3 linked regions of the Homo sapiens genome follow. The protein of the gene in region 1 interacts with the protein of each later gene in a biochemical or structural test. Each region holds a gene or a part of one and is shown on either strand. Other genes may lie near its edges. The genes, in order: LHX3, NFIB and IFT172.

Region 1 (3,341 bases):
GGAGAGAGGGAGGGAGGAAGGAGGACTGCGCGCCCGCGCTCGGGAGAGCTGGCCGGAGCGGGCGGGCTGGCGTCCAGGCTCCGCCGACCCCGCCATCCCTGACACAGGAGCCCCCGCCAGGGCTGGAGTCGCCATGCAGCGTAAGGCTGGGGTCGCGGGCGCGGCGCGGGGTGGGCTGGGGCGGCTTTTGCCCGACGCGGGCGCCGGCGGCGAGCTGCGGCCGAGGCGCTGTCCGGTCCGCGGTGCTGAATCCGCGCTGTGTCGGCCTGTCGGGCCGCCCCGCTCCGAGCCGGGTCCTCGCCTGCGATCGCTGCCCACGATGGGGACCCCGGGCGCGCAGCGGGTCCTCGACGCTCCGCACCCGGAGCTGCGGTTTTGCCGGATGCGGGGCGCATTCATCGCCGGTTTCCCGCCACTGCGTGGGGAGGCGCAGCCCAGTTTTTTCCGCCGGAGGTCGAGGGAGCCCCTTCCTGGTGTCTCTCACCCACTGGGAGATGGGCTGGAGCCGGCGGGGTCCACAGCCAGGGAGGCGGGTGCAATATGTCAGTAAATCCCGGTCCCTTCAGCGGGCACTCCTCTCTTCCAGAGACTTTTTCTAAGTGAAGAGGGAGTCCTCAGCCCTTGACACCTGGAAAACCCGCTCACAGACTCGAGGCTCCCACAGGGCACCCTTGGACCTCCCCAGTGTGGTTCCTCCAGGGGGCCTGCAGTACCGAAGTGGGGTGTGGGGGGCAGAAGCAGCGGGAAGCCAGACGTTTGAGTAACTCTGACGGTGTTGGGGGCACCCACGCCTGACACAAAGGCAGTGGATCGGCTTGTCCAGTCCACTCATAAGTAATTTTGCGGCTGCCCAATGATGGGGAAGGCATTGATATTTACCCCGGAGGCCTGCAGACAGGGCCACCAGGCAGGGCAGCCACATTTGCGAGGAGTCCCTAGAAAGAGTGGCCATGACGCTTAACATGAAGGAGACCCGATGGGGTGCCCCAGCTCCAGGTGATGGTGAAGACCCGTTTCCCTATGTTTCCTGCCGGGCTTCAGAGAGCAGATCCCCCTGGGGTGGGGTTTTCATTTGAGCTCCACATGCACCCTTCTTGGCACTGGCAACATTTTGTAATTGAGTATTCAGCCTCGTGAAATGGCCTGGGCTGCTTTCTTGCTCACACACATTTTTAGACCGATGTCAGTTTCCCCTTAGCTCCTGACATAGGATGCGGTGCCTGCACACTCCCGGAACTTGCGGGGCCACTTAAGCTGGCTGGGGAAGAGGGTGTGTAGGGAAAGGAGGACCCCTCGGCAGCCCTGAGTCCTGTGGGCCGGAGGGGAGACTGGCTCGCGTTGGGGTGGGAAGGTGGCTTCACTGCCTCCTGGTCTACGAGGTGACCCAGAACTTCCTCGTGCCCACAGAGATCCCGCTGTGCGCTGGCTGTGACCAGCACATCCTGGACCGCTTCATCCTCAAGGCTCTGGACCGCCACTGGCACAGCAAGTGTCTCAAGTGCAGCGACTGCCACACGCCACTGGCCGAGCGCTGCTTCAGCCGAGGGGAGAGCGTTTACTGCAAGGACGACTTTTTCAAGTGAGCCCCGAAACCTCACCTCAGTGTGGGAGCGGAGGGCACGCCTGCCCCAGGGACTCCTCCCCTCACAATCACCAAGGCCAGGCCCTCGAAGCCTGCGTCTCTCGCAATCCCAGCCCACTCCTGTCACCCAGGCAGGGCACCCTGTGGCCTGGCCAAATTAAGGGTGGGGCCTCTCCATGGGTGCTCCCTGGGTGGCTGGGCCTGGCTGGGACATCAGCAAGTATTATTTGGAAAAAAAAGCAATTTATTACCTAAATCACAGAAGCAGTCATTAGAGAAGATACACCCCTATTTGTAGGATTCTACTGGACTTAGTTCCTCCGAAATTGGTGATGTTTTAGTTCCTAATGCTGGCACCCAGCGGCTCTGGCCCAGTGGCCTTCATGGCTCCAGCTGTGGGGTGTGAGGGACTGGCCCCAGATGGGTCCTCTCCCTCCGGATTCACCTTCCCAGATCCAGCATGGGTCCTGCAGGCAATGGCGGCTGGGCTCCCCGAGGTCTTTCTGAGATTGAGGTTCCCTTCTCAGTGGGAGTGGGCAGCTCTGCCCCGGCGGCCAGGCTGGCGACCACCCTGCAGGGCCGGACAGAGCCTTCCTCCGGGGCCGCCTTCCCAGGCAGCCGCTTGCCTCTCTCCAACCCGCTCGGGGCGAAATGAGCCTCGCGCTTCCGCGCTGAGCCCGGCCCTGTGCGTCCCGCAGGCGCTTCGGGACCAAGTGCGCCGCGTGCCAGCTGGGCATCCCGCCCACGCAGGTGGTGCGCCGCGCCCAGGACTTCGTGTACCACCTGCACTGCTTTGCCTGCGTCGTGTGCAAGCGGCAGCTGGCCACGGGCGACGAGTTCTACCTCATGGAGGACAGCCGGCTCGTGTGCAAGGCGGACTACGAAACCGCCAAGCAGCGAGGTCAGCCGAGGGGACGACGCTCCCACCTTTCCTGGTCTGAAAAAAATGGGGCTGAGGCCACGCCCAGGGGGGCGTCCGGGGAAATTCTCTCCCCAAGCGCTCACTAAGGGGGCCTGGGCTAGGGCGGTGTAGGCAGCAGGAAGCCGAGGCCGGGAACGGCGGAGTCACGGACAGACCCGCGTCCCGAACCGCTTCGTTCGGTCCGAAGTGTGCGGCTTTTCGCCCCTGGTCGGAATTATCGCCCTAAATTCTTGGCCGCGAAGGCTGGGCCATACCCACACCCTTAGAATAAAGGGGAGCCCGCGGGGAAATCAGGGTGCTTGGAGAAGGGAGCCAAGGCTGAAGGCGGGGGCGCCGTGGAGGTGCGATTTTAGGGAAGGCGCCGCCCCCGCCCCCGCGGCAGAACCCGCCCTCCGCCGGCGCCCCCTCCACCCCAGCCCGGGTGCTGCCCGTTTTTGCCAATCGCTCCCAGCGCCCGCGCCTTCCGAGAAGCCTGTGGGGCGGGATGGGGGTGGGCACCTGAGGCCCCGACGTCCCCGCGCCGGCCGGGGTGGGAGGGCTGGGGGTCCGGCCGGGGCCGGAGGGGCTGCCGCGCCTCACCGCTCGCCCGCCGCGCAGAGGCCGAGGCCACGGCCAAGCGGCCGCGCACGACCATCACCGCCAAGCAGCTGGAGACGCTGAAGAGCGCTTACAACACCTCGCCCAAGCCGGCGCGCCACGTGCGCGAGCAGCTCTCGTCCGAGACGGGCCTGGACATGCGCGTGGTGCAGGTCAGCGCTCGCCCCTGCTTCCCTCCCGCCCGCGGCCTTGGGGGCCCCCGCAGAGCCGGGCGGCCGCTCACCCCGCCCCGCCCCCAGG
Region 2 (3,652 bases), about 120 Mb from region 1:
TTATTAATTGACGGGGCTCATGAATTTTGAGAAAGAAATGCTGAATTCACTGTACAAAGTATTGTCCATTTTTCTTATAGGGTTCCTTCCTAGTCTTTCAGAAACCATAAAAAAAAAAGAGCATCTTTCCAATGGCTGAGAAAGAATGAGTGGTGCATGCCTCTGATTGTCTCTGATTCACATGGAAATTTCAAGATCATGGGGATTTTCTTGCTCTAAGAAAGAAAAAAAAAAGGTTTGAATTGAAGATATCTGTATAATTGGTGAGGTGCATGCTAATTCCACCAATTCGATAGCTTTATCCATTCTACTTCACCAATTTGTACATTCCAGCTCCAGTACTAAGAAGCTGACAGTTGGGTGAAACCACCTCAAAATTAATTTCTTCTATACTTCTAAGTATTTTACATGAAAAAACAAAGGAATGATGCGGCTTATTGGTACGTGTTAGGAAGGTTCACTGGCTAAATCTCTGACATTTAAATGTTATGGCCACACTAAAAAGCACAGTATTTGATGTACCAATGATAAGCAAAATAATCAAAAGGTTTTAAAAAAAAAGCTTGCAGATAGTGAAAGTACAGGTAGCTTACATGTGCCTAATACTAAGTTTTGAAATGTCCTCATCTGTTCCCAACCTTATGCGACTGTTTTTAACAATGACATAACCTACAATGATGTAAACATGCAATTACCTTACAGAGGCACTGATTCCATCTGCTTTGTGAAGGGGCTTGATTTCTATAGGAATGCTCCAATAAGTACCAATTACCTAATCTCTCTTTGGGTGATACGAAAACTTTGTATTCTGCGTTATGTTACTCAGTGCAATTTCAATGTATACCTTGAACAAGCAGGCATGACTTATTATTTTTGTTATAGCTGTTAACTTAAACAAGTGAGCTTCTCCCTTTTCAAATATGATTCACTGACTGGAATTTGAGAAGAGAGAGCCTGTGATAGCAGGGCCACATCCATGCCTGCTAGCTCCACTTAAATGAGAAATCTCCATCTGGTCAGGTAGCTGGAAAAATTGCCGTGTTTTCCACCTTGGATCAGATATCCAATGGTGCCTCTGATGGACATTTCTCATTTCCTATGGAAATACTTACTGGTTGCTGTAGGTGAAGCTGCCTCACCTTCAGTGGATGTAGTGATGGGTTTAGTATCTGTCATGCTCAGGGTCACAGGTCGCACTGCACTGGGATGGGGAGAGGGTGCCAAGACAGGAGTGAAATGGCCAGGCACTTTCCCTACTACTTGACCACTGCCGTTAGGCTACAAAACAAAAACAGAATGCCGGGTGAAGCAATCCAAAAGGCAGTCATCTTGTTCAACAAGTCCACTCAGCACACACGACTGTGTGGATCCAGCACACTGCGCATAGGCGCCACACAGGCCCTCTCGAGTCGGAGTCGGAGAGGCCAGTCAATGGTTGGTAGTAATAAGGAGCAGCAGCATTTCAAAGAAGGTTTTCATCTTCAAAGCACGTCATGGTATAGGTGAATTCCTCTTTACAGCACCCCTGAGAGCCAGGTAGACTTGATCCTTTCATGTAGTAGGCCAAGAAACTCAAGTGCAGACTTAAATGCTTAGCCCAAAGGCTAAAATGGAATTCCTTACTGAACTAGCTACAGTTGGAACCCAATGCTTCCTTATTCTCTGCTCTTCATTTTCTATAATGAGTCAGTTTTGGCTTTTAGAACACAATTTTCACCTACATGATGATATCACTGAAACAAAGGACACAAAAATATCTAGGAGATCAAATACAACGAATTCTGGAATTTTCATCATTTACAGTCAAGAACCATTCTCCTGCATACAAAACTCTAGCTCTCTTACACACAGGTGTGCTGAGATGCACACATTAGGCAATTTAGATTCCGAGATCTATGGTCAACTTTTGATGATTTACTAATACAAGAAGATAGAATAAGATGTAAAGCATCTAAAATTTCAGAGGTCATACAATGATATAAAATGCTGAGCTACGTTTGTCCTTACACCTACAAATAAAAGATTTCCAAAGTAAATTAAACTGTACTGAGGGGAAGCAGAGGACAAGCAAATGAGCATTGTTATTTGAGTTACTCTTACATCCATGGTGGTGCATGGAGAGTTACACAAAACATTTCTTGTTGACATTTGTGAGAATTAACTGAGAAAATCCCCTGGGCAATGATAGAAAAGATGTTACTATCTGAGTTTTAGCTCCTGGGTACAAAAATAGTTTCCGTGGTAGGAAACAAAATCCTAAGGATACACTCTTTGAAGAAATAGTGGAATATATTTTTCTAGACTGAGAATGTTATTTTTGATTATACCCATGTTGGAATTCTCCACTGCACGGTGTTCATCGCAATTTGCTGGGAGGCTATTCTCGGCAAGTATATAGTCTTTATAATCTGAACTGTTAAAGGCAAAAAAAAAATGAAGCAGAATATTTTTCTAAATATCTGCACATAAATTACAAGTAGACATTTATTTAGAGAAAAAGATGAACAGCTAATAACACTTAAATATTGTGACTTAGAGACATGAACTAAGTCTTCGGTTAGGCTCCTCAGAGGCCACATTATTTATTCTATAAAGAAAATGGACTTCCTGAATATCCTGATTATTCATCATGGGTAATTTTAAGTATTTAACTTGATGTCAGGAAAATTGACCAGAGTTTTCCAATATGGAAACCTATGGGAGAGTTACATCTTTAAACTAATTTTATTCAAAATATTCCATTGAATAGCATGACTGTCTCACTATAATTGGTGCAGCAGTAATGCAATTAATCTCAAAATTGCTGTGGGGAGGAAAAGGCATCTCAGTTGCTTATCTTAAAAATCAAAATCAGTGCAGTGCTGGAGAATATTGGGAAGCAACAGCTGACTAGAAGTGAATGGTGAAGGAATACTGATGTTTTTCCATTTCTAAAGCTAAAATGGTAAATACCAAGAATTCTAATTTGAAATGCAAATTAATTGGTTTTGAGTTGGAGTTAAAAATCAAAGCAGATACACTGTTCCTTAAAAAAAAAATCTGCAGTTAACTATAAAGACCCATTTTTCCTTTCAAAGGGAAAAAGTAGTTTGTTTCTACAGCAGGCCATCCATTTCTGGTTATCTGAACACTGGAAATAAGTGCTTTAAATATCTTAAGAAAGAAGACAGGTCTCATTTTATCATTGGTGGTACATTCAATGGTAAAAATGTTTCTACATACAGTGTTCACCAAAACAGTCTGAAAGTACCTACCTGGAACAAAATGTCTGGAGCAGAATGACAATAATTTCAAGGAAATGCTGCCACCAAATATATTATCCTACCCTGACCATTCTACAAACTTCACCTACTGGAATTGAACAACATGAACTAGTAGACACTTCTCTCATTTGAAAAGAATAAAGGTGACAAAGAAAGAATTCCCAAGTCAATGCAGACAACTTTCCTAAAACTCAGGGTGAGAAGAATTGAGGGCTATTTTCTCCTCAGTTTTCTACTGGTTCAAACAGATGAAGCTACACTAAAAATTTCTATCTTTTAAGGCTGTTAATAGATGAACTTTCATACTGTAGATAGAAAAGAGAGATGTCTTGTCTGAAGGTGAAGCTAACAGCATTAGGAAAGGATTATTCTACTTTATACACGGTTCC
Region 3 (3,652 bases), on another chromosome or scaffold:
GTAGCTGGGACTATAGGTGCCTGCCACCACGCCCAGCTAACTTTTTATATTTTTAGTAGAGACGGGGTTTCACCGTGTTAGCCACAATGGTCTCGATCTCCTGACCTCGTAATCCGCCTGCCTCGGCCTCCCAAAGTGTTGGGATTACAGGCGTGAGCCACTGCGCCCGGCCAACAGTGGCAGATTATTAAGTGCTGATTATTTTTAATGAAGTAAATTATTTTTAAGTGCTGATTATTTTTGATAAAGAGAAAAGAGGAAGAAATAACTTTCTTAGCTGGTGCTGTGTGAGTGTGGGCAACTGTACAAATGTAAATGCAGAGTCACAACATTGTGACTCAGATCAGGGAGCAGTGTTCATTCTCTGGAGGAAGTCAATAAAGGCCCTAGAGGTGTATGCAGGATTCATCTCTGAAAGACAGGTGCCTGTGTATTTGCTAACAGCATGGGGAGCTCCACGGGTGTTTCTTCAAACAGAAGTTGGAAGTTTCTGCAAACCTCCCCATGCTCTTAGCAAATACACAGCCTCCAGAGAGGCTGTACATTTCTGGAGATGCGTGGGGGGCTCTGGGCATGACGTTCTCTAAGGATAGAATCCTCTGAGAAGATAGTTCCTGAGAAGATAGGTGGTTCTAGAGGAGAAAGAGCTTTCTTGTGGAAACATTCAACCCAAGGAGAAGGCTGGTACCTGTGGGTTAGCAGGGGCTCCGTGCTGTACATACAGGGCCAATGCCTGGGCAGAGCTACCCTCCCGGATCAAGTGAGTTGCATACAAAGCCACATACTTGTGCAGAATCTTGTAGTTCTGTACAGGGGTGGAGGAAAAGCATGAGTGAGGCTGGGATCGGCAAGACCAAGCAGTGAGGTGACTTGAGGCCATGTATTTGTTGAGGGGAAAAAGGGTGTACGCAAACCTCTGACCCCAGTTTCAGACTGAGCTTCTCTGATGCCCATTAGAAATCTTTGGGCTTTGGGTTTTTGTGGAGGTAGAAGAGATGCATCTTTGAGGCAGGTGGGGAATCAAGGGAAAATGTAAAGAAAAACTGGGAATGGGAAGAGAGCAGTACCTGCTTGGTAGCTGTTTCAATGCACTTGTCCCACTGGCCCTGCTCCACATACAGGTCCAAAGCAGCTATCACATCCACACCCACCAGCTGGGTCAATGGAAGACAGAGTTACAAGAGAAAAGAGATGACATGAGGGAAAGAAGAGGGAGAGAGTCTTGTGAGTCTCTCCCTGCATTCTGCCTCCTGCTAACTCTCCAAGTCTCACCGAGTCCACTTTGCCCTGATTCTTGAGGAACTCTTTATAATGCTGGTCCACATAGTCTTCATACCTGTGAAGATGTTCAGAGAGCTCCATCTTCATGTTCCAGAATACCAACCCTCCCGGTAAGACTTTCTCCCAGTCTTTACAAAAGGAAGTAAAAGAGAATTTCGCAGTAAGAAGGGGTTACAAGCTTACCTGGGATCTAACTCCTTAGCTACACGCTTCGCCTTGTTCCACTCCTCACCCTCGATGAAAGCATCGATTGCTTCCTTGACAAGGTCCAGATTCAGATAGAGCTCTGCAGCCTGCACAGTGGGAAATCAGCGTGGAGACTTTCTCCTCGCTCCCAGTCTTCCCACTGTGAGCTCTCCCATCTGTTTCCCCAGGACTGCAAGCCATGCCCACCAGGAGGCCCACCTCACACACCTTCCTGGGTGTAGATGTCACCCTTGCACCCATCTCTGTGAAATCTATTTCTGTTCCATCTCAGCATCCTACTTACTGCACTGTGCTTTCCAATTCCAATCAGCTGGGGTCCTACAGCCAGAACGACTTCCATATTACGTTGGGGAGGCAGAAACTTGATGGAGAGTTCAGCTGCCTGAGTGGTTGAACAGAAGATGGAAATGGGTAGGAGAGACAAATACCGCTGAGTCCTCAGCCTCATCCATTTCATACATTTTTCTCCTCCAGATGCCAACTTTTTCTCTTACTCTCCCCTTCAACCTTGCACCCTCCTGGGCAAAACCTGGCTCATGGTCCATTAGATCCTTTGATTAGCCATCAGTGGACCTATCTTTCCTCTCAGTTCATTAACTCTTTCAGATACTTCCTGCGCTGCCTGAGGTCACTGCATTTGAAACTTCCGCCTTTGACAAAATCATTTTCAAGGTCTTTGTCATAAGTAAAATCTTCGTAGCAGAGTACAGAGAAAGGACTCCTAAAATAAGGAGTCCAGGGCATTCTGTAACTATTTGTGTTGGGCTTTTATGAACTTGTTTCTTCATTCACACACACTGGATTTTGAAGATTTAGTATAAAAAAAGAATGGAAAATATCTAAATAATGTGTGTGAGTACATGTTGAAATGGTAGTATTTTATTTAATTTTTTTAAGACAGAGTCTTGCTATGTCGCCCAGGCTGGAGTGCAGTGGCACAATATCAGCTCACTGCAACCTCTCCCTCCCAGGTTCAAGCAATTCTCTTGTCTTGGCCTCCTGAGTAGCTGGGATTACAGGCACCCACCACCATGCCCAGCTAATTTTTGTATTTTTAGTAGAGATGGGGTTTCACCATGTTGGCCAGGCTGGTCTCAAACTCCTGATCCTCAAGTGATCTGCCCACCGTGGCCTCCCAAAGTTCTGGGATTACAGGCATGTACCACTGCGCCCAGATGAAATGGTGTATTTTAGATATACTGTGTTAAATAAAATATATTACAATTATTTTTACCTGTTTTTTTTTTTTTTTACTCTTTTTAAATGTGGCTACTAGAAAATTTAAATGACATGTATGGCTTACATTTGTGGCCTGCATTATATTTCTAGTGCCAGTGCTGGTATAGATGGTCTTGATGATAACCTTTCAACACTTAAAACTCAGAAATTCTACAAACCCAAGTGTTCAATGAGATCACTCTGTTTCCATTATGATGCTGACATCCTTACCAGATTTCAATTTCCACACAATCCAATTTCACTGTAGTTTATGCTAATCCCCTCTGGTCTTTCCCTCACCTGTTCTTGCCTCCCTTTCTTACTGCCAAGCCCTTCAAAGCTTAATCTGCCCTGTCTGCATCAGGAAGCCATTTTCTGACTAATCTGAAAAAGGTACAGTCATGCCATGCTCCCAAGTTACATATATCAGATGCTTATTCAATACTGCTGATTAAAATCTGCTAGAACCTCAAAACCAATCATCAGCCCCTCTCTTTCTACTTCTCTCCCTCTAACTTCTAGGGGTTATTGAGTTTTAAGACCTCAAAAGGCCAGGCACGGTGGCTCACGCCTGTAATCCCAGCACTTTGGGAGGCCAAGGCTTGTGGATCATGAGGTCAGGAGATGGAGACCATCCTGGCTAACACGGTGAAACCCCGTCTCTACTAAAAAAATACAAAAAAATTAGCCCGGCATGATGGTGGGCACCTGTAGTCCCAGCTACTCAGGAGGCTGTGGCAGGAGAATGGCCTAAACCCAGGAGGCGGAGCTTGCAGTGAGCCGAGATTGCACCACTGCACTCCAGCCTGGGCGACAGAGCAAGACTCCGTCTCAAAAAACAAACAAACAAAATAAACAAACAAACAAAAAAACCTCAAAACCTAAGGGAAATTTTGCAGGGGCATCACCATACGAATATGTCATTTAGAGGGCCAATCTCACCCCC

The links.
Region 2: the proteins of LHX3 (region 1) and NFIB form a complex in vitro, tested with the Homo sapiens proteins (one study listed by BioGRID).
Region 3: the proteins of LHX3 (region 1) and IFT172 form a complex in vitro, tested with the Homo sapiens proteins (one study listed by BioGRID).

The regions. Positions count from the first base shown.
Region 1 is NC_000009.12:136,198,820-136,202,160, reverse strand, and holds part of LHX3 (LIM/homeobox protein Lhx3), read left to right. Parts: intron 1-133; coding exon of another isoform or gene 134-140; intron 141-486; exon of another isoform or gene 487-950; coding exon of another isoform or gene 951-996; intron 997-1,407; coding exon 1,408-1,579; intron 1,580-2,280; coding exon 2,281-2,483; intron 2,484-3,101; coding exon 3,102-3,253; intron 3,254-3,340; coding exon 3,341-3,341. UniProt on the Homo sapiens protein: Transcription factor.
Region 2 is NC_000009.12:14,115,069-14,118,720, forward strand, and holds part of NFIB (nuclear factor 1 B-type), read right to left. Parts: intron 1,279-3,652; coding exon 1,140-1,278; coding exon of another isoform or gene 1,113-1,139; intron 1-1,112.
Region 3 is NC_000002.12:27,448,227-27,451,878, forward strand, and holds part of IFT172 (intraflagellar transport protein 172 homolog), read right to left. Parts: intron 1,871-3,652; coding exon 1,772-1,870; intron 1,575-1,771; coding exon 1,465-1,574; intron 1,337-1,464; coding exon 1,273-1,336; intron 1,155-1,272; coding exon 1,068-1,154; intron 806-1,067; coding exon 689-805; intron 1-688. UniProt on the Homo sapiens protein: Required for the maintenance and formation of cilia. Plays an indirect role in hedgehog (Hh) signaling, cilia being required for all activity of the hedgehog pathway.